2 linked regions of the Homo sapiens genome follow. The protein of the gene in region 1 interacts with the protein of each later gene in a pairwise test. Each region holds a gene or a part of one and is shown on either strand. Other genes may lie near its edges.

Evidence for each region. Proteins that work in one complex are often made in the same cells at the same time.
Region 2: the proteins of ACP1 (region 1) and FNBP1L interact in a two-hybrid assay, tested with the Homo sapiens proteins (one large-scale study listed by BioGRID and IntAct).

What each region holds. Positions count from the first base shown.
Region 1 is NC_000002.12:271,447-274,946, reverse strand, and holds part of ACP1 (low molecular weight phosphotyrosine protein phosphatase), read right to left. Parts: intron 3,082-3,500; coding exon 3,008-3,081; intron 2,911-3,007; coding exon 2,797-2,910; coding exon of another isoform or gene 2,642-2,796; exon of another isoform or gene 2,466-2,641; intron 1-2,465. UniProt on the Homo sapiens protein: Acts on tyrosine phosphorylated proteins, low-MW aryl phosphates and natural and synthetic acyl phosphates with differences in substrate specificity between isoform 1 and isoform 2.
Region 2 is NC_000001.11:93,531,618-93,535,117, reverse strand, and holds part of FNBP1L (formin-binding protein 1-like), read right to left. Parts: intron 2,197-3,500; coding exon 2,050-2,196; intron 414-2,049; coding exon 210-413; intron 1-209. UniProt on the Homo sapiens protein: Required to coordinate membrane tubulation with reorganization of the actin cytoskeleton during endocytosis. May bind to lipids such as phosphatidylinositol 4,5-bisphosphate and phosphatidylserine and promote membrane invagination and the formation of tubules.

The DNA of each region.
Region 1 (3,500 bases):
TTTGTATTATAAAGTTCCATACAATAATCATAAAATAGTATAATGTGTAGACACAATGTTTATACATCGGCTTCAATTCCTTAGTAGCAGTGTATAATACAGTCAACATACTAAAATGTCACATATTTAATCCCCTTCATTATTCTACTCTATTTTTCATTCCACAAGCACTGAACATCCTGGGCCCCAGTAACAAACACCAAGCTAAGTGGACAGAGCCGCGTCCCATGGAGCTGCCCTTCCACATGGGGGCAGGCAACACACAGGAGGCACAGATGCCCTGGAGGAAATAAAGCAGAGAGGAGATACATACAGCTTTGGGGCAGGGAGGAGTAAAAGTATTAAGTTGGGTGGTCAGAGGTGGTCACTAAGAAAGAAACACAGGAGTGATAACTGACAGTCCTCCTTTATTTTGATTGACTATCCATAATTTAAACCTCACACAGAAGAGAATGCCACTCAGTATTTCTACTGATTGTAACCTGAAAGCTTATGATTGTTTTCTGATATAATCTATAAACACACCTACTTAAAATACAAATGAAAAGATTATTTTGTGAATTTCGACTACTATAAATAATGGCAGAATAAGAAACATAAACATACGTACTGCGGAACAAAGGTGGAAAGTGTATACCTGTTCTTCTAAAAAATGAGAAACTTTGGCTTTTAGTATGCACTTCCAGTAGCTAGAAAAGACTGTATTTCGTCAACACTCCCATGACATTGACTTATTTCAAAATTGAGAATAAGTACAATACTGAATTTTTTCTTTTTGTTTTTAGAGAAAAGGTCTCACTCTGTCACCAACACTGGGGTACAGTGGTGTGATCATAGCTCACTGCAGCCTCAACTTCTTGAGTTCAAGCCAACCTCCTACCTCAGCCTCCCAAACAGCTGGGACTACAGGCATATGTCATAGCACCCAGCTAATTTTTAAAATTTTTTTGGTAGAGATGGGTCTCACTATGTTGCTCAGGCTGGTCTTGACCTCCTAGGCTCAAGCAATGTTGAGCCTCCCAAAGTGTTATTAGGATTATAAGTGTGAGCCACCATGCCTGAACAGTATTATATTATTTCTCCAAATTAGTTATGTGAGAAATTCCCTAGGATTTAATACTAAACTTGTTTTAAATTCTGGACTAATTGTAAATTTTTCATAAAAAAAGACTTAGTAACTGTTACATAATTTTTAGATGTTACAATAATTGAGAAAGAAACAGCTATAACTTATGTAACAAATGCACAATAAAGGATTTCCACTTGCAGCTATAAATGAAACAGCTTGTGGCAAATCACCCCTACTACTAAAAACAACTAGAAACGCCATATAAAAAACCAGTGCTGCAGAGACAGTCGGGCTTTGTGGCCACCAGGCCGCTCTGGCTGTGCTGCTCTAGCACAAAAGCAGCCGCGAACTACAGGTGAATGAGTGAGTCTGGCTGTGTTCCAACAAACACTGTTCATAAAAAAGGTGCCTCAAAAAAAGGTGCAGGCCCCAATCTGCAGACTCCTGCCACTTGCCACTTCTCTTCCTGCTAAAACTGGAAAGTGATGAGACCTCAGAACAGGGATCTCAAACGGTTCAGTAGCAGAACTCTTGAACTCTGTAAAATTATTTAAATCCTATGTTATGGTTTGGATGTGTCCCCCAAAGTTCCTTTGTTGGAAACTTCATCCCCAATGCAACAATAGTGAGACGCAGGATCTTTATTAATGCCACTATCTTGGGAGTGGGCTCCTGACACTGATGGGTCCTCTCTCTCTCTCTCCTCTGTTTCCCTCTTCCCGTTTTTCTAGTTCTCGCTCTCACTCACTCTGGGGCACTCTCTTGACTCCTCCACCTTCTACCACAGGACGATGCAGCAAGAAGGACTTCACAGCCCCATGAGCCCCTTGGCTTTGGACTTCTCCAAATAAATGTATTTTCAACAATGGCCAGTAGAAACTGGCAAGGTATGCAAATCCTGAAGAGATGAGGATGGATAAATTGTATAAAAATGTTGAATCACCTGACCAATGAAGATTCCATTTCCGAAAAGGTCAGTCCCAGAGTACTTCATTTAAATAAAGAACTCTTAGAAAAATCAACTTTAGCTTCTAATTCATAATATAAAGACAAGGTTATCTTCAATTGAAATTGCAGAATTTGATTGTGACTTTATTAGACTCCAAACTTAAGTGTGGCCCAATAGACTATAATTATATATCCATAATGTTGCTGGTATTACCCTATATTACTAAGGCACTTTACAGTTGAAAAAATGTTTTTGTATATATTATATAACCTCATTCTAGCAACAAACTTGCAATATCAGCAGGATGATTACTATGGCCTAAATGTTTAATAAAAATTATGCAGGAAGGAACAGAAGACAGAGCACCGCTCAGCCCCAGCTCACAGTCAGGCTCTCTCATTATAAATTACCTAGCTTTTATGTGCATTTTAATAAGTAAATTCCAAAGTCAGGCAAGTCTTTCAACACCGTGCAACCAGAAGTGAAACAAAATGGACACACCATAGCTGGTTAAGCTCACCCTAAATAAACACATTCATTAATATACAAGTCTGGTTAATCCTTTCGCTACTTCTCAAGTTACTGGACTCTATATATTAGAAATTGAACAAGAGCTTGTCTACCTGTCTTGCTTTATGGGCTGTGTGAATGCCATGATTTCTTAGGCAGCTCACAGCTCTTGGGTCTGGGGACCGGCCCACGTTCCAGTCAGAAACAGCACCGCTGTCAATGACCCACTGAAACACAAAACACACAACTTCAAGTCCAAGGACGGTACCTGCCGGGCAACGTGGCTCATGGGAATGCCGTGCCTCTTCATGCAGCTCTGCCCTCGGTAGTCAGGGGGGTTCCCTATCTCATACCCGGAAGTTGCCGCGCTGTCTACCCTCCACTGCAGGGGAAGAAACATGGAATTTTTTTTTTTTTTTTGCAATTTCCTGCCCAGAGGAGTTCAGGTTGGCCTCTTTAAGATAATGAATGGTACTTACATTCTCTGAGATGTTTTGATCGGTTACAAGTTTCCTGAAAACTGCTTCTGCAATGGGTGATCGACAAATGTTACCTTTAAAAAAAGGGAGGGGTGGGGAAACAGGGTTAGGTTGGATGGAAGGGCACATGCCAGCTCCCCTTCTTTACACACCTGACACACGGGGGCTGTGCTATCCCTCAGGAAAAACAAAGGCCAACACTATCCTTTGACGCCTTTGTCCAACCAGTGAGGGTAGACCCTGCTGGAGAACAGCCTATCAGGCTCAAGTTCAGTGATTTGACACCAACCAGCCAAGTACTCCAAGTACAGATGACAAAGATATCAGAAAAACAATTTCAACAAAAATTATTGTTTAAAGAGTTGCTACTAATGATCCAGGAGTGAATCACGAAAATGAAGTGGGTTGCAACCAGCTTATTTTAAAATGAAATACAACAGAATAAAAATAAAATACAGTGGTCTGTCCCTCAGTAGACTCAGGAGCTGGTTCA
Region 2 (3,500 bases), on another chromosome or scaffold:
TTACCCATTATTAAGCGGTAGTCAAATGTTAAATCCATAAATAACTGTTACTGTTAAGGTATTCCTAATATAAGTGAAAGGTTAACTGAATCATTCAAATTGAAAATATTTATTCTCCATTAATGGTAAATCATTTTGCATTCAATACCCACATTGTTTTAGTTGGTACACTTAAACTGATTAGCATATAGGAATTTTATGACTTTTACCTTTGGCTTCTTTCCAAAGAGCCACAATTTGCCCTTGGCCTTTCCTACTGTGGTTTTGGCATCCATCTTCCCACTCTCCTGTTTGGATGCACTGATAGTCCCATCAGAAATGGTTCTATATATATGTTGACTGTAATCTTCAAATGGAAAGTCTCCTGGAGGTTCAAAACCAGATTTGAAGGAGTCTACCACCATTTGAGAGTCCTATACAAAAGAAACTAGGTTTTAAAACTGTTTCACTTGCTCATAATTCTACATCAGCTTTCATAACTTTTTCAGTACAAAAAAACAACAAATATAAGTTTAAATAAATAATTCCACAATAATCATTAAGGTAAATAATTTATTCCCATGAATGTGTAACAAACTCAAAGTATTTTAATCCCAAAAGAAAAATATACTTGCAAATTACAACTTAATTAATTTATAATATTCATAAAATGTTTTTACTTGGTAGCTTTAACCACCTGAAATTCATCTGAAGACTACTTAGCTGAAAAAGACCTAACTGACAAAAAGAATACAGAAAGAGGTTATTAACAAGTAGAAATTCTGAGAAGTTTCAAAGGAAAAAGGCTTTTTGCTTTAAAAGATAGATGTCAACAAAGAAGCTAATCTTTGGAATGAGGAAAGAACATCTAATTGTAAAAGAGAGTAAAAGATGAGTAGGAAAGGCTTTCTAACTCATCCAACATGGGAAAAGATAAATAAATTAAATATATACTGTGGAATGTTAACAGAGCAACAGGGAAAAGATCTCATAAACACTACTGAGTGCAAACAACATTTGAAAGTTTAATACCATGTATTTAAAATTTTTAAACTCACATAAATATTGTTTTTAGACATACATACCTCTACCTGAATGCTTTAGTGATACCTTAAACTCATTATTTTCAGAGTATCTCTACAAATTCCTCCCCACCCCTAACAACAACCTCTCTTTTGTTGCCTATTTCTGTTAACAGTACATTTTGCCCTTCATTTAGTCAAAAGTCATCCTTAAGTCATAGCTTACTTTTGTCAGTAATGCTACCCTCAGCAATAATTTGCTAAAGGGTAATTAGAGAGAAGAGGGCTGTAATGATATTGTATAAACTTGTATCCAGCCATGCTGAAAGCCAAAAATCCTCTTTTCTAAATTTAAGTGAGAATTCTATTAGCTGTAACAGAAAGGATCCTCACTAATATAATATCTACTTGATAGGTTCATGAAGACTAAAATATGTGACACATATCTGATATCCTGCAAACACCAGTTCTCTTCTCTTGCCACTGCCTTTCCTCAGTTTCTGCCAACCATGCTTTTTGATCACTCAATCAACATTTACTGAGATAAAAGACCCTAGTCCTTAATCAAGATACAATGTGATTACCTATCCTCAAGGGGAGGAGGGCTATGCTGTTTCATCTGCACATAATGCCCTCCTTCCTCCTCCTCATTGGTCATCACTCCATATGCTACCCACATTTCTTGATCCAGCTCAAGTGCTAAAGGCAACTCTAACCACATACTTCTCTAAATTTTCACTAAACTAATATAATAGTATAACACAATTTGTAACACACAGTTCCTAGGTTAGACTCTTTGATAAGAACTGAAAACTTAGTGGGAGAAGAGAGTTAGAAATCTTTTTTTTTTTTTTAAGAAAGAATTAGAACTTTTGCATGTAGAATGAATCTCAGAACTCAAAGGAATCTATTGCAAGACATTCTTCTACAGAATATAATTTAGAACCACACATCAGATTACTTTATCCCTTTCTCAACTCATTTCACTAACTTAAACTGCACACCTAAACCAAACAGATGCATTCAAAGATAATTATTTAGCACTTACTCTTCTTTCATCAACTGATTTTGCTGCAAGAATCATTCCTTCCAAACATTTTGAAATGATGGGAATAACTTTGCGTTCTGAGTCAGCAAATCCTCTGTAACACTCACTGAGTTTAATAGTCCTTCGTTCGTCCATTTCTTGTAGTTGCTAATAATCAAGAATTTTTTTAAAAAGAGAAAACTGAATTTTTCAATCATTCTAAAGGAGTTCAATTAGTGATCCCCCATCAAAAATTAAATATTTCTACCCTCATAGTTACACTGTTGTTAATACCTTTTAACAAGTGCTATTGACTTATAATACTTAAAACCTGGGACATGCTAAACAACAAAAGAAAGAAAAAAAATAGTAAGGCACTTAGTATTGTTTTCCTAAAACCAGATGACACTGGGATTCTAGCCTTCTAAAAGGACCCCTTACTGGCTATCAGCTCCCTGCCCCATAGCACTCCCACCTTTTACTATTCAATCAGAGTAGTTCTTGTTTATGCTTCCAGAAAACATTTCATTTGATGACAAAATTCTGGTGCTTTTTTTTTTTTTTAAAGCAACTGGCCCATAACATATACAAGACTGAGACTTTTTTTTTTTTTTTTTTTTGAGGCGGAGTCTCGCTCTGTCGCCAGGCTGGATGGAGTGCAGTTGCGCGATCTCGGCTCACTGCAACCTCCACCTCCCAGGTTCAAGCAATTCTCCTGCCTCGGTCTCTCAAGTAGCTGGGACTACAGGCACGTGCCACCATGCCCAGCTAATTTTTGTATTTTTAGTAGCGATGGGGTTTCACCATGTTGGCCAGGATGGTCTCAATCTCTTGACCTCGTGATCCACCTGCCTCGGCCTCCCAAAGTGCTGGGATTACAGGCGTGAGCCACTGCCCCCGGCCAAGTCTGAGACTTCTAACCTCAAGTTAATTCAGGATACTTTGGTAAGACTTGGCTGGACCAACAGTCCATACTAGTTGTTTATCAACAGGTACCCAGACCTACTGCAGTGTACACCTCAGAGCTGGGGATACGTGAGGAAAAACAGGAAGTCACAAGCTCAAAGTGGCACATATAGAATCCTCACAACTGAAAATTCACTGGCACATGCCACTAGGAAATATGTTGGAACACATAAAGTCCAATAACTTAAAGGCATTTTTTTTTTGACATATCCTATTTGCCAGCACTGACCTTGCTGTTTCATTGACAGCAGTTACACTCCTTGTCTCCCCAAACTCCCACAGCCTGGGACTTTGAGACCTGCATTTTCACAGAATTGCTCCATAGAAAGGTCCAAATCCAAGTATCAGGCCCAAAACACAAAAGGTAGTTTATCTCCACAAGTTATAGTTTCCCCAGAATATGAAGACTTAACTACTAAGCCTAGAAAAGCATCACAGTGAAGACTGGCAGGCTTGGCCCTCTGGATTCAATGACCAGAATTCTGGTCCCCACTCCAGTTCATTAT